2 separate regions of the Homo sapiens genome follow, and region 2 is linked to region 1. Evidence: fine-mapped QTL for protein levels in blood plasma. A gene starts in region 1. The other region holds a variant in brackets. All regions are shown on one strand. Distances are between the middles of the regions.

Region 1 (10,448 bases):
GTCCCCAGCACCGGGACCCAGCGGCGGGCGGGCGTAGGGTGGCGCGGGTTCTCCTGCAGCTCCGGCCGGGGGATGGAGGGGGCGGCTCGCGCACGTGGGAGGAGGCAGCCTTACCTTGGGGCTTGGAGGCTTCGGTGGCATTGGGCGGCGTCATGGCGATGCAGACGTCCCCCTCGGGGAACTTGTCACACTTAAGCATCTCGGGCCAGTAGAAGCCGAAGAACTGCATGACCGGCTCGCACGAGTCGCGCACGGCCTCGCAGAGCCAGCGACACGGGTAGATGGGCCGGTCCAGGCAGACGGGCGCGAAGAGCGAGCAGAGGAAGACCTGGGTGCCGGCGTGGCAGTTCTTGTTGAGCAGGGGCACCCAGCTGCTGGCCTGCTGCTTCACCTCCGCCATGGTCTCGTGCTCCAGCAGGTTGGGCAGCACCATCTTCTTGTAGCCCACGTTGTGGCACAGCCGCAGGTCCGCGGGGATGTCCACGCACTGAGGTGGCTTGGTGTAGAAGCGCCCGCTCTGGTACGGGCCGATGTCCGACTGGAAGCTCACGTAGTCGTACTCGCTGGCCGAGCCCACGGCCAGAAGCGCCGCGCCCAGCGCCAGCAGCACGCCCAGGGCTGCCCCGCGGCGGCCCCCCTCGCTGCGCCCGATGCCCATGCCGGCTCTGCGCCCTGTTCTCCGCGACGTCGGGGCTGCCTCCGCCGCCTCCCCGCGCGCGTCCTGCCGCAAACTTCCAGGGACCTCCGGGGACAAAAGGCGCAGTCCCCAGCGTTGCCCGGCTCCGCGGCCGCAAGCTGCTGCCCGGTCCCCCCGGCCAGTGGCGGCCCTCGGCCTGCGGTCGGAGGCGGCGCGGGCGGGGAGGCGGCGCTGCGGGCTGGGTGCGCCCCGGCTCCCGGAGGTGCGGCGAGCAGGAAGGCGCGGGGCGGCGGGCGCGCGGCACTGACTCCGGAGGCTGCAGGGCTGGAGTGCGCGGGGCTCCTACGGCCGAGCCCTCGGAGCCGCCCCGCGCAGCCAATCAGCTCCCGGCGGGGCGAGCCGCACTCGTTACCACGTCCGTCACCGGCGCGGGAGCCAATCGCCTCCCTCGCGAGCGGGTTCGGTTTACTAGAACCAGACGCGGCTCAACACCCCTTAAAAAACAAAACCAAAAATACATAAATAAAAGGGGGAGGAGGAAAGAGACAAGGGGAGAAAAAGAAGGGGAATGGATCACGGCGTGGGGTGGAGAGAGACCAGGGCGGACGCTGTAATTAACTCGCATTGGCTTGCAGAGAAGCGGGGAGCCTGGATCATACTTGCAAACCCATGAAATTATGAAGACTTTTTTTTTTTGAGACAGTTTCGCTCTTGTTGCCTAAGCTGGAGTGCAATGGCGCTATCTCCGCTGACTGCAACCTCCGCCTCCCGGGTTCAAGCGATTCTCCTGCCTCAGCCTCCCGAGTAGCTGGGATTACAGCCGCGTGCCACCATGCCCCCGCTAATTTTTTGTATTTTTAGTAGAGACGGGGTTTCACCATGTTAGCCAGGCTGGTCTCGAACTCCTGACCTCAGGTGATGCTCCTGCCTTGGCCTCCCAAACTTTTTTTTTCTTTTTCTTTACACTGCTTCCTAATTTCAACCAACAGCCCTTTAGACTAGCGGCTCCTCTCCTCGGTTCTCTAGCTGCGGTGCAGACAGGTGGTTTCCCAACTAACAGGGGTTCAGGAAGGCTGAAGCGAGGGAGGTCTGCTTGTAAATACCCAGTGGGCCTGGCTGGGCTCCCTGGAAGGCGAGGCGAAGGCGCAGTTGGAGCTGTTTGCTGTGAGCAGCACCTCTCCAGGTGGGGCCGCCCATGGTGGCCCTCAACACTGGGGCAGTGGGTGGACTTTGCCCGGTGTGGCGGCAGGAAGAGCTGCTAGCAACGGTATTAGCTCTGGGAGGACACTTTTTTAAATATATAATATATATTTAAATAGAAAAACCCTACTCAAGTCCTAGCCCGGGCGACAGCACATCTGTGTGTTTGTGGTGTGGAAAGCCAAAACATTAAAAACACATGTGCACTTATCAGCGTGGCTGGTGTAAATACCAAGTCCATCACTCAGGCACACATGCTAAGGTTAGACCCAGTCCAGGAACTTCAAGTTAAAATCAAGGGTCCCCACTAGGGCAGACGCCAAGAGGACGGTATCAGCACAACAGCTCGGCCCCCAGGAACAGAAGTCTCTCTGCCACCTTCTACCTCGAATTCCTGAGAATTCTTCGTAGGTTTCAAACATTCCCCTGAGAGGGAGGGTTAAGCTCTGGAGAGCTGGGAGTGAGACCCGGACTATCCCGGGACAGAAGACCACAGCAAATAGTTCATGAAGTTCCTGGAGTCTCCATATCTTCTGTCCCTAAGTGCGGGTGGAGAGAGGCTGATATATTCATAGCCCAGTCTGAGCGCACACCCCATGTGGCAAAGGGGTCACAGATCTTAGCGCTCCACAGAGACACTATAGGGCGCGCTGCCTTGCCCGCCAGCTTGTTTGTAAAGCTCTAGGGAGCTTGCTTTGGACTCTGCAAACCTAATTTCTTGATGGACAGATTCCAAGTGAAATGACTAGAGTTTGTGAAGAAGCAGGGCTGTTTTCTTAAAGCATTCGTGCCCGTACAGACACGGTGATTCCACGGTGCACACAGGAGGCTTCTGCAGATGGATGACTTCTCTGTCATTTCGTGGCCAATGGAAGATGCCTTGACACTCAAAAGGTGACATGGAGGCTGGAAGGAAAACACAGAGAAGAGAGAGCAAGATCGGGATGGCCAAGGGTTAATCCCAAGACAATTGGTGAGGCCGGCCTGTGGAGCTGAGGAAGACATTCCTCACAGAGAATAAGACCGCAGGAGACCCGGCAACTGTGTCTCAATTCAAGGGGCATTTAGAGAAAAATGCTGTTTGGTAGGGGGTCTTTTTGTCTCCTAGGGCCAGGCCCTCCACCTCAAGCCAAATGCGTCTGTTTGCTCACTGCAAAGATGGATGTTTGCAGATAACATCCTCTCACCTCTGAACCCAGGCTTAGCTGACCGCTCACTCACGTTTTCAGTTTTCCCGAATGGCAGGAGGACTTGTGTCTGTCCACGGTTAAATGCTGGAAATTCGTCCAGGTGACTGCCCTGGAAGTCCCAAGTCAGGAGTAAATCTCACAAATCCATTCAGGGGAAGACCTCGCCTATGTCTGGTCACTCCGAGTAGACTTTGATCACCTCCAGTCACCACCTCCCCCACTCACCCCTAGTGGTCCTACTGCTTTACTGACCCCTGCTGGGAACACAGTTGTCTCTCCGTGGAACAGGGAGTGATGGGAGAAGACCCCAAATCCTAAATCCAGTGCACTCCTGACTCCTCCCAGACCCAGCTGGAAAGGAAGGACCCTAAGACCTCAGTCCCACCGAGAGACTTTAATCCATTCCTGGGATGTGGGAGAGGGACCACCCGCCCCCCGTCCTCTCGGGAAATTCACATGCTGCATAACAGCACCAGGCAGAACAGCCTGAAGACTTTGTATTGCAGAGGTACATACAGTACTTTTGTCCTTTTACTTATTGTCAACTCTTTGCACTTCAAAATCCAGTCCCCCTTTTCCTAATGGCAAGTGTGTGTGTGTTTGTGTGTGCACGCACTCCTGTGTGTACAGCAGAAGGTTCTAGAACAAAGGCCCTTTAAACATGCAACTGACATGACAGAGCTCCCAGATATGAGGGTTCCTGAGTATGAGAACTGTGGGCCAGGAGACATATCCTCCCTCCTTTTTGAATGGCTTAAATAAACAGAGGCAAAATGCAGCTTTAACTTATGTTTCTCATTTCCCAGAAGTTCTGCTTTTCCCACACTGCTAGATGCCCATGCATGAAGCCTGAAAGTTCGTCCTCTGTTGCTTCAAAACACCAGCTTCAGGAGGCATTCTCAGTTCTTCAGCCTCCACAGAGGGTCACAGAGGGCCCCCCCAGGTGCCTCCCAGGTGGCCTCTTCCCACACGCAGAGCTTTTTCCTGGCTTCTCCTGGAAAAACTGGGAGGGGAGCCTTCCCAGCCACAGCTCCCATTGTGTTCCACTATCATATCATCAGTGATGTCTGCCATCCTCTCCAAAGATACATTCAGCTCGCTCTCCCTCAGCCAGCAGCACTAGGGAGGGAGCTCCCGCCTGAAGCTGGGTATCTGTGGGTCAGGGGCAATGCCAAGGAAAGCATGCTGGCCCACAGTCAGTGGACACAGGCTACAGCCTCAGCTCTGCTCCTAACTGGCTGGGCGACTCATGGGAATCGCACTTCCTCTCTCTGGTCTTAGTGTTCTCATCTGTGAAACAGAGCTATTAATGCCTGCCCGGCTGCCCTGCTAGCTCAGAAGTGTGAATTCTCAGCATGTAGGGTCACTCGAGGCACATCCTTAGACTTCCAGGCAAGTCTGAAGGGGCCAAAGTGGTATTCGTTGTCAGATGCCTTGAAACCTGGTCATGCTCTTACTTGGACAAGCTTCTTCTGCATTCTGCCTCTGTAGATGTGTAATCCTGATCCTTTCTAACTCTTTAAAGAACTGGCCTGACCTGCTAACTGAAGTCTGGGAATGTCTGGGAAGCATCTTAAAAATTTGGAGTTGAAGGCAAATTCCAGCCCCATCTCTTCATCTCTTCTTAGAGTAAGCACCCCTACCTCTTCATCTTTTTTTTTTTTTTTTTTTTGATACAGAGTCTCACTCTGTTCCCCAGGCTGGAGCGCAGTGGCAGGACCTTGGCTCACTGCAGCCTTGACCTCCTGGGCTCAGGCAATCCTGCCACCTCAGCCTCCCAAGTAGCTGGGACTCCAGATGCAGGCCACCACACCTAGCTTTTTTTTTTTTTTTTTTTTTTTTTTTTTTTTGAGCAATGGGATTTTGCTATGTTATCCAGGCTGGTTTTGAACTCCTAGCCCCAAGCAATCCTCCTGTCTCAGCCTCCCAGAGTGTTGGGATTACAGGGGTGAGCCACCGCACCCAGTCCTCTGCACCATTCTTGACAGAAGCTAACGGAGCATCCCTTTTATTTGTTTGGGATATAGTCACCAAGTTCAGACAATCCACTAGAATGTTCTTCCTTCCTTGAAGGGAAACTCTGCTCCCTGTAATTTCTTACTAGGCCATCCTAGGATCAGTTCCTATCGTAAGCAGCCAGGAAGACACCCTCAGCGGAGCCCCAAACTGGGAGGCCAAGGTCACCGTCCCCGCCCCTCCACTCAGACAGTCACACCTGCCCACTCTCCAGGCGAGGTTCTGTCAAACTGGGCTTGACAATTTTTGTTCATTTATTACTACATTAATTAATTTATAATTTATATTATAAATATATTCATGCCTATAAATATAATTTTTATATAAATAAATGAAGACTTGTATACCACCTCTTAGAAAGAAGAGAACTAAAAATAAAAGGCATATTTTAAGATGACTTTTTAAATAGAAATAAAAATATCAAATGGACTATTTCTCTGATTAAAATTCTCACACACTCTTTGTCCACAGGAAAAAGCCCAACCTCCAGGATAGTATCAAGACTCAGCCCTGACCCCCATGACCTCTCCAGCTTCACCTCCCCAGCACCCCCCACCAGCCTAGTTTCCAGTCTCCAGAAGTACTTGCACTTTCCCACCCAATGGCTTCTCGCTTGCCTCTCATCCTGGGCTCATGCTGTGTGCACATGCTGTTTTCTCTATCTGTAATGCCTTTCACTACTTTTGTACAAACTACTACTCATAGGGTTTCCAGATTTACAAATAAAAATACAGGACACCCATGGCCAGGCACAGTGGCTCATACCTGTAATCCCAGCACTTAGGGAAAGTAAGGCAGGAGGATTGCTTGAGGCCAGGAGTTTGAGACCAGCCCGGGCAACATAGCAAGACCCTGTTTCTACACATAATAATAATTTTTAAGAATTATCTGATTAGGCACAATTTTAAGAATTTTAAGAATTAGCTGATTAAGAATTAGCTACAGGCACAGTGGTACGTGCCGGTAGTCCCAGCTACTTAGGAGGCTGAGGCAGGAGGATCGCTTGAGCCCAGGAGTTGGAGGCTGCAGTGAGCTATGATCATACCACTGCACTCCAGCTTGGGTGACAGAATGGCACCCTGTCTTTAAAAATAAAAATTAAATTTAAATATTAAAAAATAGAACATCCAGTAAAATTTGAATTCCAGATCAACAAGAAAAAACTTATTAAGTGTGTCTCAAATATTACCTGAGACATACATATACTATAAATTATTCATTGTTGAACTGAAATTCAGTTTACTGGGCATCATATATTTTATCTGGCAAATCCACCCACTTATCCTAACAATGTTGTCTCCTCCAGGAAGCCAGGCCTGACCTCCTCCATCCCTAGTCAGATTCACCCACTCTGTGCCTGCAGACACTCCGTGTACATTTATAACTGGTCCCTTCCATGTACATCGTACAGTGCAGTGAGCTCTTAGAGGCCAGGACCTTGTCTTATTTTGTCTTACCCATTCCACATCTCCAGCATCTAGTACAATGCCATGCATATACTGAGTGCTCAATAATTACGCCCACCCCAACAAACAAATAAAGGGGAGACAGACATGTGAAATACCCAGGTTCTTAGGGGTGCTACCCTTGCACATTGATTTTGTGCGATGTTTTCTGAGAACAAAGGTAATACGCCAGCATGAATAGCTCCCATCGTTCTCTTTGTCTTTGAAAAAGGAAAATCTTTTCTAGATCTGAATCCTAAGGGAACTGATCATCAGTGCCTTATACAAGGACAGCAAACATAGTGTGGGACTTCTTTATTGGATCTCTTCCCATCCCAGAGCTGACCCTGTGGACAGATGCCACATCCGATTCACTCCTCTCTCCCCAGGGCTTGCACCGAGCAGGTGGCTCCATGGAGGGTGGGTTGGTCAATGCAGTGGCCCATTCCCACAAATCCTCACACAATGCTGTATAAAAACAGGAGCTGGCATCTGGGAGGCTAGAGTTTCTGGGAGCCTTGTATGCCAAGTGGGGGTGGGGACTGGGGAGCAAGAGAAGGTAGAAGGGGGCTCCACAGTGTGACACCTGGAGTCGGATCCTGGCGACGGGGCTCAAGGCTTGGCTGGGACATCACAGAGCACCAGACACAGGTCTTTAGGAAGCCCCTGCCCCTCTGGGAATCCCAGGCAAGTGAAAGTGAAGTGGCACATGCTTCAGTGACCTGAAGCCCATAAATCTGCCGGGATGGCTGCGGGGAGGGCAGCGGCCCAGCGCCGGGACACATTCCCCGAGGAGCCATGTGCTTATTTACCTAACCCTTCAAGGCAGTGGAGCCAGACGGTGCATAGCCTTCATTGGGGGATTGAGCCTGGAGCAAGCCGGATATAAATGAGGTGCTAGCGAGAGGAACGGGGGAGTGCCCATCATCACACTCCTGCCTGGCAGGAAAGCCTTCCCTGCTCCCAAGAACTGGTAACCTCAGCTGGGGAAGCCTCGCCTCCAAGTCTCCATCCAGGCAAGCCTCCTCCCCACAGTCTCTCTCAGCCTGAATAACACATCTGCCATCTGCCATTTAAGGGGCATTACTCACCTGGGCGAAGGCAGAATCCCCTGTCGCATAGGAAGATGCCTTGCTGCAGTCTTTTCCGATTTGCTCTCTGCATGCATTATGGCATTTGGGCCTCACCAAAAGCTTCTGAGCTGGCTGAGAAGTTCATTACTTTCATTTGACAGAAGAAGATACAGAAGCTCAGGGTAGTGGGACCCTGACTAGCAGTCCAGCCACCAAAGCACTGTGGTGGAGGCCAGTCGCAGGTCAGGAAGCACAGATCTTTGGACTCCAAATCCTGCTGGCTTTGCAGTAGACCTGGCTTTGCTGAAGGCCAGTCCCTGGGGAGAGAAACCTGGAGAGCCCTTGCAGCCAGCAACATCTGATTGTCCATTCATTTACCAGGCTCTCTTCCTGGACCTCCACCAGAGACTGTACAAGGTGCACAAAAACGTGAGCCACGCATGTCAGACCCGTGACCGCTACAAGAAGATGGCCTGAGACGTGGCCCAGGAATTGAAGAAAGACACTTTCAGTTTTCAGAGAGAGAGAGATCCTTTTCTATGAGAAAATGTCCCAGGAAGGCTGGATGGCCACTGAGCCCACTGAGAGAGCGCTGCAGGTGCTCCAGAAAGAAAATGGCCACAACAGGCAGAAGCTGGCTGACTCCAAGGCCGTTTCAGGCTTTCCTGAGTGGCACTTTGGCCCCTAGGGCTCCACCCACAGCCCACAGGGGCCTGGAAGTGCCAGGGGGACTGTGAGCCTTCAGGGCTCCCAGGAGGGAGGCGGGTCACAATGCCAGGGTTTGGGTCCAGAGCACCTGCCAGTTTGATTCTGTTTTCCCATAACCAAGTCCTGAATGCCCAGAGACTCGGCACAACGTCAGCCGGTGCTCCTCCCTTTAAAGCACTTTTGATGGATCCCCTGTTAGTTTAGCTACTGTTCATTAGTTCCTGCTGAAATTGCTGTCATTGATGTTTGATAGATAGCATTAGGACTGTAAGGTACTATTTTCCAAATAAAGATTGTTTAATATAAAATATATATGTATTTTATATTATATATATTTTATAACATAATATATATGTGTATATAGAAAGCCCAATATGGCATGGCACCAACCAATCAGATTGCATGCAGACAAAAAAAACCTCCTTTGCAGCCTGACAGGTGCATGCCAGTGGGGTCCCAGTGTGGGGGAATTCATAGCCTCCAGCCTCTGTGCAGAGCTCACGCTGCCCCCACAAGCTGGGCCGTCTTCCCAGCACACATCTCAGGTTTGGCTAATGGGCTTCATCTGCCTGGTCTCTCCCCAGTCTCCCTGTACATCATGGCTGTCAGAGCACCACTCTTCTTGTTTTGCATGTTTGCATGTCCGGAGTTCTAGAAGCTTCTTGAAGACAGAATCTGTATCTTTTTTGTATTTGTATCTCTAGTGCCTGCCACATGGTAGGTGTGCAGTAGTCATGTGATTGCTGAGCAAATCACCGTCTCAAGACTCATCTTTTTCATTTGATTGTCTCAATACTCTGTACTTAGGGCACCTGAGGAACCACTCTGTGACTTGTCTCCTCTTCTGAAAAGTAGGGGTTCTGCCAGGCGCAGTGGCTCACACCTGTAATCCCAGCACTTTGGGAGGCTGAGGCAGGTGGATCACCCAAGGTCAGGAGTTCAAGACCAGCCTGGGCAACATGGCAAAACCCCGTCTCTACTAAAAATACAAAAATTATCCAGGTGTGGTGGCAGGTGCCTGTAATTCCGGCTACTCGGGAGGCTGAGGCAGGAGAATCACTTGAACCTGGGAGACAGAGGTTGCAATGAGCCGAGATCGCACCACTGCACTCCAGCCTGGGCAACAGAGCAAGACTCCTTCTAAAACAAAAATTAAATAAATAAAAATAAATGGAAAAAGTGGGGGTTCATAGGACCCTTCCAGTAGGAGGCTAAACAGAGGGATGCAGAGCAATGTGGGTGCATGGATGAGACAAACTGGGGCCTCCTGGAGAAAGGGTGTCCTGCAACCTAGGAACTGGAACAGGAGGAAGGTGTCAAACTTCCCGGTATGTGGAAGAGTTGCTCAAGATGGGTTTCCTCAGTCTTAAATAGGCATTGGATTCACCTAGGAATCTTGTTAAAATGCAAATTATGATTGAGTAGGTCCGAGGGGGGCTACTAAAAATTAGAACCTCCATGACAGATGATTCTAATTTTTACTGTCTCCTACAACTTTGCTCCTCCAAGTGTGGTCCGCAGACCAGCAGCACCAGCATCTTCTGGGAACTTGTTAGAAATGCAAATCTCAAGCCAGCTCTGGCCAGTGAGAAGGAGGTAGAAGTTGGTAAGTGTGGCACCCTGGAGCACATCATAAGAAAGATAGCCTTAGAGATTTTGCCTCTTCCCTCTGCTTCCCACCTGGAATTTAGCTGTGATGCCTGAGGTACAGCAGCTCTCTGGCAACCATGAGGATGAATGCCAGCAGACCAGTATGGTGGAGCAGAAGGAAAGAACCTGGGTCTCAAGGAGTCCCTGCACCAGCCCTGCACTGCCCACCTGGGGATTCTCACTGGGGAGACCTATAATCTGTCTCCCTCACTTGCTTAAATCCAAAGTCATTTTGATTTTCTCTTTCATGCAGCTAAAACCAAACCTCACTGGCACAGGTATGTAATTCTCACAATAGGCAGGAAGCTCAAAGACTGCAGGTTCTAATTTTTACTGTCTCCTAAGACTTTGCTACTCAAAATGTGGTCCCCAGACCAGCAGCATCAGCATCTTCTAGGACCTTAACAGAAATGCAGACACTCAGCCCACCCGCCGCCCACCCCAGGCATAACAATTAGTGTTTGCATTTTAACAAGACTCCTAGGTGAATCCGATGCCTGTTTAAGACTGAGAAACCCCATCTTCAGAA
Region 2 (10,488 bases), 220 kb before region 1:
GTGGAGTCTGAAGATGTGACTGAATTGCTGCACTCTCATGATAGAGCTTTAACAGATGAGGAGGTTGCTTCTTATAGATGAGCAAAGAAAGTGGTTTCTTTTTTTTTTTTTTTTTTTGAGATGGAGTCTCACTCTGTCACCCAGGATGGAATGCAGTGGCGCGATCTCGACTCACTGAAACCTCCATCTCCCAGGTTCAAGCAATTCTCCTGCCTTAGCCTCTTAAGTAGCTAGAATTACAGGCACCCGCCACCACGCCCGGCTAATTTTTGTACTTTTAGTAGAGATGGGGTTTCGCCATTTTGGCCAGGCTGGTCTTGAACTCCGGACTTCAGGTGATCTGCTCACTGTGCCTGGCCAGAAAGTGGTTTATTGAGATGGAATCAACTCCTGGTGATTCCATGGAGTAAAGATTCTGTGAACATTGTTGAAATGACAACAAAGGTTTTAGAATATTCCATAAACTTAGTTGATAATGCAGCAGCGGGGTTTGAAAGAATTGAATCCAATTTTCTGGTGGTAAAATGCTATAAAACAACATCGAATGCTACAGAGAAATCTTTTGTGAAAGGAAGAGCCAATTAATGTGCTAAACTTCATTGCTGTCTTATTTTAAGAAATTGTCACAGCCACCCCAAACTTCAGCTATCACCATCCTGATCAGTCAGCAGCCATCAACATCAAGGCAAGACCCTCCACTAGCAAAAAGATTACAGCTCGCTGAAGGTTCAGATGATCACTAGCATTTCTTAGCAACAAAATATTTTTAAATTAGGATTATACGGTGTTTTTTAGACATAATGCTATTGCACACTTAATTGACTGCAATGTAATGTGAACATAAATTTTATAAGCACTAGGAAACCAAAAAAATTCATGTGACTCACTTTATTGTGTTATTCTCTTTATTATGGTGGTCTGGAACTGAACCCACAATATCCAAGGTGTGGTTGTCTATAAATAGAATACTGATTTTTTTTTTATTTTTTTTTTGAGGTAGGGTCTTGCTCTTTCACCCACGCTGGAGTACAGTGGTGTGATCTCAGCTCACTGCAAATCTCTGCCTCCCCGGCTCAAGCATCTTAAGTCTTCCCACCTCTGCCTATCTAGTAGCTGGAACTACAGGTGCATGCCACCACTCTCAGCTAATTTTTTAATGTTTTGTAGAGATGAGGTCTTGCTATGTTGCCCAAGCTGATCTTGAATCCCTGGGCTCTTGTTATCGTCTCCCACCTCAGCCTCCAAAAGTGCTGGGGTTACAGGCAGGAGCCACCACACCCAGCCTGAATTATATTTAACAGCGGCCAGGATCTGTATTGTAAAAGACACATGTATATGTGTCTTTTAATGCAATCAGTTAACTAATATATCCCTTTTATTTTATCTTTGATCTCCAGAGTGTTCCCTTGTGTGCTTTAGAACATAATAGCCTCTCAAATACTACTTAAACAATCAAGTTAATCAATTATTCAATGAGTATTTAATGAATACCCACTTAATTGTATAATCCTATCTTGACACTGTGGAGGATGCAGATAGATATGAGAAATAGCTCTCATCTGAAAGAAATTTAGAATGAAATGGAATAGACAGGGCTCTCAATAGAAAGGCAGGCAGACAAGCAGGCAGACAGGGAAAAAGTGACAGTAAATTCTTCCTGTTTAAGGATGATGAAAATCAAAATGGTGATTCCAGGAGGGAGACCACCTACCATATTCTCATCCTGGAATCTCCTACAGTGTCTAGCATTATTTACTGCATGTGGTAACTGTCTACTGTTTGTGGATTGAATCAATGAACATGATATATGCTGTGAGATTTGAATGTGAACTTTAGAGCTCACAGTCTCGTCTCCTCAGGTTACAGATAAGAGTTGCTCTAAATGGCGACTCCCCTCCCTTTCAGGCCCTCCTCCCACATCTCCATTTCTCAAGACCTGGGTCATACTTCCTCCTCTTGGCAGTCTTTGCTGACTATCTCCATGCAAAGTGACCTATGAATTCTTAGAGATCTCAAGTTCTTTCTCTTTCTTTGTTTCTTCCATTCCTTCTTCTTCTTCCTTTCTTTCTTTTGGGTTTTTAATTTTGTTGTTACACATTGTCCATAAAATTTATTTACAATTTTTTTCTGCTTCTACTATATAGAAGCTCATATAATCTTTAAGATTTGAAAAAAATTCCAGCCACGCAGAGTGACTAACCCCTGTAATCCCAGCACTTTGGGAGGCTGAGGCAGGTGGATCATGACGTCAGGAGTTCGAGACCAGCCTGGCCAACCAACTTCTCTACTAAAAATACAAAAAATTAGCCAGGCGTGGTGGCGGGTGCCTGTAATCCCAGCTACTCAAGAGGCAAAGGCAGGAGAATCGCTTGAACCTGAGAGGTGGAGGTTGCAGTGAGCCAAGATCATGCCATTGCACTCCAGCTCGGGCGACAGTGGGAGACTCCATCTCAAAAAAGAAAAAAATTTCAAGGATACATAAATACAAAAAAGATGATAAAACATAAAACCAAATGCTCACTGTCCAGATTTATCAAGTGTTCACATTTTGTCACATTTGCTTTAACTCTTTATTTAAACATATGTAATAAAACTATAAAAACTGACCTGAGAGAAAATACTCCAATCTCAGTGTAGTGATTACCCCTGTGAAGGGAGGATAAGGCAAAGCGATGGGACAGGAGTGAAGTTTGGGGATGAAGATATTAACTGCCTTTAAAACATTGACAACAGCCAGGCATGGTGGCTCACGCCTGTGATCCTAACAATTTGGGAGGTAGAGGCAGGTGGATCACTTGAAGTCAGGAGTTCGATACCAGCCTGGCCAACATGGTGAAACCCTGTCTCTACTAAAAATACAAAAATTAGCCAGGCGTGGTGGCACATGCTTGTAATCCCAGCTACTTGGGAGGCTGAGGCAGGAGAATCGCTTGAACCCAGGAGGCAGAGGTTGCAGTGAGCCAAGATCACGCCATTGAACTCCAGCCTGGGTGATAGATCAAGACTCAGTCTCAAAAAAAAAAAAACATTGAAAGCAACAGAAACACCCTGGAAACTGGTTTCTGTTCTTGCCGCCCATTCCCTCCACTCTCATTTAACCATCAGATGGCTCTTTGTCATCCAGCTGGGGCTGTCAGACTTTGAGACGCAGTGTCGTGTATTTAAGCCTTGTCTCAACAACCAACTCAACTGCAAGCATCCAGAGGGAAGGATCTGTGTCTCAGGCTTGCCTTCTGCTCACCACGGAGCAATATGGAGCATATTAGAGGCTTATTTCATTTTATTACATCGTGCAGTTCCCCTGAACAGGGTATATGTAGCTCATTTTTAACATTTTAATGAGTTTCTCTCCCAAATTATGAACTTCGCAACGTCTTCATTTATCATCTTACTCCTAGTCCTCCCAAGAATGTTGTAAAGTGTAGCCAGTCAAATTTACATATGATCTCTAGCTTGTTTCCAAGGGATTCCCATTACAATGAAGGTGAAAAATTGCCAAAGACCATTTCAAACCCATCTGCACATACTGTGCTTTAGGGATTCATTAGACACATTTTCCTTGCCTGTTTTGAAGATGAACTGTTGCAATGTCTCTGCAGTGGGGCAGATGTAATCTTCCCTGGCCTGATCCTCTGCAGATGCTTAGCTGCACGGTGGATTGAATGTCTCAAAGGTCAATAACCCTTTCTATCATTTTTCATTAAAGTGCTTGGAGCGGGCAGTTCCTGCAGGAATAATTACTCGGAATCTGGCATACAATTCTTGTACACCCCAGCAAGTTAACCTTGAGAATTCAACTCCAAAGCCAGTCTTTGACAGGTTTTTGTGAGAGTTTCACCTCACACCTTGGAACAACTGAAACGTCTTAGGAAATTCATATTTCCAAAGCCCGAGTTCCCAGGCTGGGTGCACAGAGCACAATGATCATGGTGTCTGAGCCCGGGCAGACCTACCCCATGGGAAAGGGAAGGGAAACTGGGGGAAGGGAGAAACATCATGCCTGCTTCTTGGAATTGCTTTTGCTTCAAACCTTGCCTTCCTCTAGGTTCAGGGAGAGTCAAGAAAGCTGCCGTTACTCTAAATTCCAGACTCTGATAATGTAACCCAGCTCCTAAGAACAGCCTCAGCGTGAACCGGAACCTTGAGGAGCTCACTTGCCTCGCTGACCAGCAGACGCCTTGATTTAAATCCAGTGCTGGTGGCCAGAGCTAGAGATGTCTTGAGGGACAGAGGCAGCGGCAGGGTCTGGGGAAGCAGAAATGATGCTATCCTGAGTGGTTCATGGCAGATCACGCTGGAGCGTGACGCGCTGTGAGCGCTGCAAGTGTTCTGTGGACCAATCTGTGCAACCACCGGAGGAGGCTCCGGTTCGGTTAATCTGTTCGTTAAAGTGTCTTTGATTACGAACAATTCAAACTATTCTGGTTGGGATCAACTGAAAAGAGAAGTGGGGTGACTCCAGGAAGCAAAATGCAGCTGAATAACCCAGGCCTGCGGAGGATGGGAGCCCCCCAGCACAGGGGGCTTCAGGGACCACTTCTCCAGAGCAGAGCTGTCAAACGACATAAAGCTCCAACCATGTGTGCAATATTATATTTTCTACTAGCCACATTTTAAAAGGTAAAAAGGCCGGGCGCGGTGGCTCATGCCTATAATCGCAGCACTTTGGGAGGCCGAGGCGAGCGGATCACGAGGTCGGGAGATCGAGACCATCCTGGCTAACACGGTGAAACCCCGTCTCTACTAAAAATACAAAAAAAATTAGCCAGGCGTGGTGGCGGGCGTCTGTAGTCCCAGCTACTTGGGAGGCTGAGGCAGGAGAATGGCGTGAACCCGGGAGGCAGAGCTTGCAGTGAGCCGAGATCGCGCCACTACACTCCAGCCTGGGCGACAGAGCGAAACTCAGTCTAAAAAATAAAAAAATAAAAATAAAAAGATAAAAAAAGGTAGGAGGAATTTATTTCCATAATATATTTTATTTAACTCAATATTTAAAATGTGATTATTTTAACATAGAATCAAGGAATTGTCAATGAGATATTTTGAATCTTTTTTTCATATTTAGACATTGAAATCCAGTGTGTATTTTACACACACAGCACATCTCTACGATGGAGCAGGTTTGGGACACACTGATCCATTATCCCTGTATTTTACAGATTAAGAACTGGGGCCGAGAGTGTTTATTTAACTAGCTTGCAGACATTGGCTCTCTTTGCCCTGCCATATAGCTGTAGTTTGGCAGGGCAGGGGTGCAGCTTTGGTGACTTTATTTCTCCACTCACTGAGAAGGTCTCAGCGAGTGCTCTCAACTCCCCAGGGAGGGGTTGGCCCTTCCTAAACCCGTGGAATCGGGTAACTTTGGTTATATAGGATTCATTCCCGGAATACTTCAGAATCCTGCCTAGACCACA[A/T]CGGCCCTTCTGAGCCAATCTCAGACTCCAGGCCCTGGGGGTATCTTTTCTCCGCTTCCCTTCTCTCTCTCCAGTTCCAGTGGAGTTCCAGTAAACCACGTGGTGAGAGAGGTGGGAGCTCTGATTTGTAGCGTCTGCCTGTTTTGGTGGTATAAATCCTCCCACCGTGGCCAATTTCAAGCTATCAACATGACATCAGCCTGTCTGCAAAAATCCTGAAAATTTAACAACTGGGTCTTGAGACCCAGGGCAAGCTGGACCCAGCTCATCACTGCAGCATTACCAAAACATTTCCTCCCCTGAGCCATGCCTGTTCTGTTCTTTCACTTCTATCTGTTCCCTAGAGATGCCACATGCTATGGACACTGGCTTCAGAGAAAGTCAGACAGGCCTAACTCAGGTCTGCCTCCTTCTCCCTTGTTTTTTTTTCTCTTCTCTCTTTTTTTTTTTTTTTACGTTTGAATTAATGTTAACTAACTTACAGGATGCTGGAGAGGATTAGAACAAATCCTTGTGAAGCCCACATGTAGGAGGTACTCCATGTATGCGACTATTAGCCTTTTTTTTTTTTTTTTTTTTTTTTTGAGACAGAGTCTGTCTCTGTTGCCCAGGCTGGAATGCAGTGGTGCCATCTTGGCTCACTGCAACCTCCACCTCCCAGGTTCAAGCGATTCTCCTGCCTCAGCCTCCCAAGTAGCTGGGACTACAGGCACGGGCCACCACACCCAGCAAATTTTCATATTTTTAGTAGAGACGGAGTTTTGTCATGTTGACCAGGATAGTCTCAATCTCTTGACCTTGTGATCCACCCGCCTTGGCCTCCCAAAGTACTGGGGTTACAGACGTGAGCCACCGCGCCCGGCCAGCATTTTTATTTTTCAATTTTTTTTTCCTTTTGAGACAAGGTCTTTCTCTGTCATTCAGGCTGGAGTGCAGATGCACAATCACAGCTTACTGCAGCCTCAACCTCCCAGACTCAAGCGATCACCCCCCTGAGCCCTCGGAGAAGCTAGGACTACAGGCATGAGTCACCACGCCCAGCTAATATCCTTACATTTTTTTCTAGAGCTGGGGCTCTCATCATGTTGTCCAGGCGGGTCTCAAACTCCTGGGCTCAAGCAGTCCTCCCACTTTAGCCTCCCAAAGTGTTGGGATTACAGATGTGAGCCACTGCACCTGGCCTCCTTTTCTAATTTTTAACATACAAACTCACACAGCCAGCCAGAACTAAAGCCAGTATTAGAACCCAGAAAAGCCCCTTCAAGGATTCCAAACTAAATTGCCAAAACTGACTGGTTCAAGATGGTGTGAACAGGTAAGACATTTCTTCTGACCTTTGCATGTATCCTTTGGAGCAAGTCAGGGGAGAATCACAGGGAGCAGAGGTGAAATCATCATCAGGAATTGTGATGATGCAGAAATGGAAAATCATACTAGGACCTGTGTTTGTTTCCTAAGACTGCCACAATGATGTACCACAGGCTGGATGGCTTACAACAGCAGAAATTTATTCTCTCATAGTTCTGGAGGCTAGAAGTCCAAAATCAAGGTGTTGGCAGGACCACGTTCTCTCCAAAATCTCTTCCTTGCCTTTCCCAGCTTCTGATAGCCCCTGGCATTCCTTGGCTTGCAGCAGCATAAGCCCACCTCTGCTTCTGTCTGCTGCGGGCAGGAGAGCAGTTTTCTCTGTGTGTCTCTTTCACCCACTTCTTATAAGGACACCAGTCTTATTGGATCAGGGCCACCCTAATGACTTCATCTTAACATGATGACATCTGCAAATACCCTGTTTCCACATAAGGTCCCATTCACATGTACCATGGTTAGAACTTCAACATACCTTTCAGAGGACACACTTCAACCCATAACAGATCCTTTGTAAGACCTTAATATTACAACATAAAATCTCTAGATGTTATTCTGGGTGTTCCAGCCTCCTTTCCCCAACCAAAAGGAAAGCTTTTTTGTTTGTTTGTTGTTTGCTTGTTTGCTTTTGAGATGGAGTCTTGCTCCGTCGCCCAGGCTGGAGTGCAGTGGTGCAATCTCGGCTCACTGCAACCTCTGCCTCCCAGGTTCAAGTGATTCTCCTGCTTCAGCCCCGAGTAGCTGGGATTACAGGTGCCCACCACACACCCAGTTAATTTTTGTATTTTTAGTAGAGACGGGGTTTCGCCATGTTGGCCAGGCTGGTCTCGAACTCCTGATCTCAGGTGATCCACCCTCCTCAGCCTCCCAAAGTGCTGGGATTACAGACGTGAGCCATTGCACGTGGCCTACAACATAAGATCTCTAGATGTTATTCTGGGCCTTCCAGCCTCCTTTCCCCAACGAAAAGGAAAGGTTTTTTTGTTGTTGTTGTTTTTGTTTTTGTTTTTGTTTTTGTTTTTAATGAGAGGCAGAGTCTCATTCTATCACACAAGCTCAAGGCTGGAGTAAAGTGGTGTGATCACAACTTACTGCAGCCTCAAACTCCTGGGCTCAAGCAATCCTCCTGCCTCATCCTCCAGAGTAACTGGAACTACAGGTGTGGAGCACCATACTCAGTTAACTTTTATTACTTTTATTTTTGTAGAGATGAAGTCTCACTGTATTGCCCAGGCTGGTCTCAAACTCCTGGCTTTAAGCAATTCTCCTGCCTCAGCCTCCCAACATGCTGGGATTACAGTTGTGAGCCACTTCTCAGGGCCTAGAAACACATTTTTTAATAATCCTAAATTAAACCAATGTATCTTAAATCTTTGTTGAAACATTAGAGAATCTGGGTCCCTTCTCTAGCTCCTGTTGACCAAACTCCCTCTGGCAAAAAGTACTCAGCAAATCTGTTTCTCAACAAGAGGAATGTGAGCCCACAGATACTAAGAGGTCCCCCATAGTCACACAGCACTGAGTTGGGAAGCTGAGATGTGTGGAAAATAGTTTTATTAGGTTGGTGCAAAAGTAATTGCCATTACTTTTAATGACAAAAAACTGCAATTACTTTTGCACCAACGTGACAGCTTTCTTGCAAATCCCTTCCATCCCTCCTCCATCTCAGCTCTCTTAAAATATGTTCGCAGTTCGCTCATTCATTCATTCAACAAGTAGGGATTCAGTGCCTACCACTAAGGGGCAATATTGCGTAGTATTTAAGTCATACCTGTATTTGCATTCTGGCTCTAACTTACTGCTGTGTGACTTTGGGCAAGTTGCTTCTCCTCTCTGTGCTGTCTGTAAAAAGAGAATAATAACAATACCCATGTCACTGAGTTGGTGGGAGGGTTATAGGACATGGAGCACATAAGGCACTTGCCACAGAGCCTGGTTAAGCACTGACATGTCACTCTTCAATATTTGCTGGTTACTAAGTGCCTGGCCCTGAATCGAACCCTGGAGATACCATGACAAGAAAACAGACAAGGCCTGGCTCAAGGGGTTACATACAGTCCAGAGGAGACCACTGGTCTCCAAATGGACACAGCAATTTCAGATTTAAAACACTGTATTTTGCAAAATCTTATTTCTACAGCTATTACCTTTGGCCCATCTGAGTTTCTAATTTTGTGGCCAGCCAGATAGGTTAAGAGAACATCATCTGAGTCAGTCAAAATTTTCCAATCCAATCCAATCCAGTCCAGTCCAATCCAGTCCAATGCTTTGATGCCATTATCTACACATAGGGGCTTTATATGTAGGATGGAAGTGGAGAAAGGGGTAAGAGATAAGGCACTCATTTAGTCCTCCCATAGGGCTTTCCAGTATGGCTGCTGTTGAAATAAAGAAGAAAGAAGAGACGAAGGGGTTGAAACCATTGAAGTTTCACCAATATAAGCCTGAAAGCAATTTTGATCCATTCCACACATTCTCTAGTAACATTAAAAGAAAAATGTACAATCCTATCAGGGCTCAGTCCAGTGAGAAACATCCCAGTGAGTTTTATCAGCAATCGTTCTGGGAAGTGGGAGACAGGGGGTACCGGGACATCGGTCAGTGTGACCCACGCCAGGAGGGCTGTGTTCCTTGGCGGGGGTGGGAGGCCTACCAGAGTCAAGAGACAGGCCTTTGGCTCTTATAAGAAACTCCTTTTGTTGCATGTGTGTACTGAACCCATTTATACAATATCTTCTATCTGCAATGAATCTATGAGCCAGTTCTGATTTCACATATCCAAGCATGAAATTAAGAACTATTTATATTTTGTATTTTTGACTTACATTTTTACTTTTTTTCAAGAAGACACATTATAGCTGTCAGACGTATGTGAATCAGAGCAACTCCATCTTGAATAGGAGCTGGGTAAATTGAGGCTGAGACCTACTGGGCTGCATTCCCAGACAGTTAAGGCATTCTAAGTCACAGGATGAGACAGGAGGTTGGCACAAGATACAGGTTGTAAAGACCTTGCTGATGAAGCAGGCTGCAATAAAGAAGCCAGCCAAAACCCACCAAAACCAAGATGGCCACGAGAGTGACCTCTAACTGTCCTCACTGCTACACTCCCACCAGCGCCATGACAGTGTACAAATGCCATGGCAATGTCAGGAAGTTACCCTATGTGGTCCAAAAGGGGAAGGCATAAATAATCCACTCCTCGTTTAGTATATAATCAAGAAATAACCATAAAAATGGGCAACCAGCAGCTCTCCAGGCTGTCTGTCTATGGAGTAGCCATTCTTTATTCCTTTACTTTCCTAATAAATTTGTTTTCACTTTACTCTATGGACTTGCCCTGAATTCTTTCTTATGTGAAATCCAAGAAGCCTCTCTTGGGGTCTGGATCGGGGCCCCTTTTCTGTAATATAGCTATCTTTCAATTATATATCTTGGTGGGACTTTTCATATAAGTTATTCCATTAATCAGGAAAAACATCGTTTTTCAGGTCATGTATGTTGATGTCTATCAGTGGATTACAGTCACTGCTAGAAATCTGTCATCTGCTAGAGAGCAAAAACAGAATCAGTGAGAAGGGATCTTACAGAAGGGTGTGTGTGTGAGAGAGAGAGAGACAGAGAGAGAGAGACAGTACGTGTGTGTGTGTGTTAGAGAGAGACACAGAGAGAGTGCATGTGTGTGTGTGAGAGAGAGAGAGACAGAGAG

Alleles and levels. Positions count from the first base shown, and alleles are read on the strand shown. Strength reflects both the effect of a copy and how common the allele is.
With allele A in place of T in region 2, the plasma level of the protein whose gene starts at base 972 in region 1 is higher (moderate association).

Evidence for each region. PIP is the chance, under the fine-mapping model, that this variant and not a neighbour inherited with it causes the effect. The UK Biobank Pharma Proteomics Project read protein levels with antibody pairs (Olink). The fine-mapping took linkage between variants from a reference panel, not from the people measured, so its PIPs are less certain.
Region 2: its variant is fine-mapped to the plasma level of the SFRP1 protein (UK Biobank, PIP above 0.99).

What each region holds. Positions count from the first base shown.
Region 1 is chr8:41,308,502-41,318,949 of GRCh38, forward strand. SFRP1 (secreted frizzled related protein 1) reads right to left here and starts at 972. Exons shown (of 3, transcript NM_003012.5): 1 at 115-972. The coding sequence starts at 658. RefSeq lists enhancers at 1-692, 2,612-3,139.
Region 2 is chr8:41,088,573-41,099,060 of GRCh38, forward strand. No RefSeq gene overlaps it. Among named protein-coding and RNA genes, the nearest start is that of MIR548AO, 180 kb to the right of the region's middle. The variant A/T (reference allele first, on the strand shown) is at 5,415.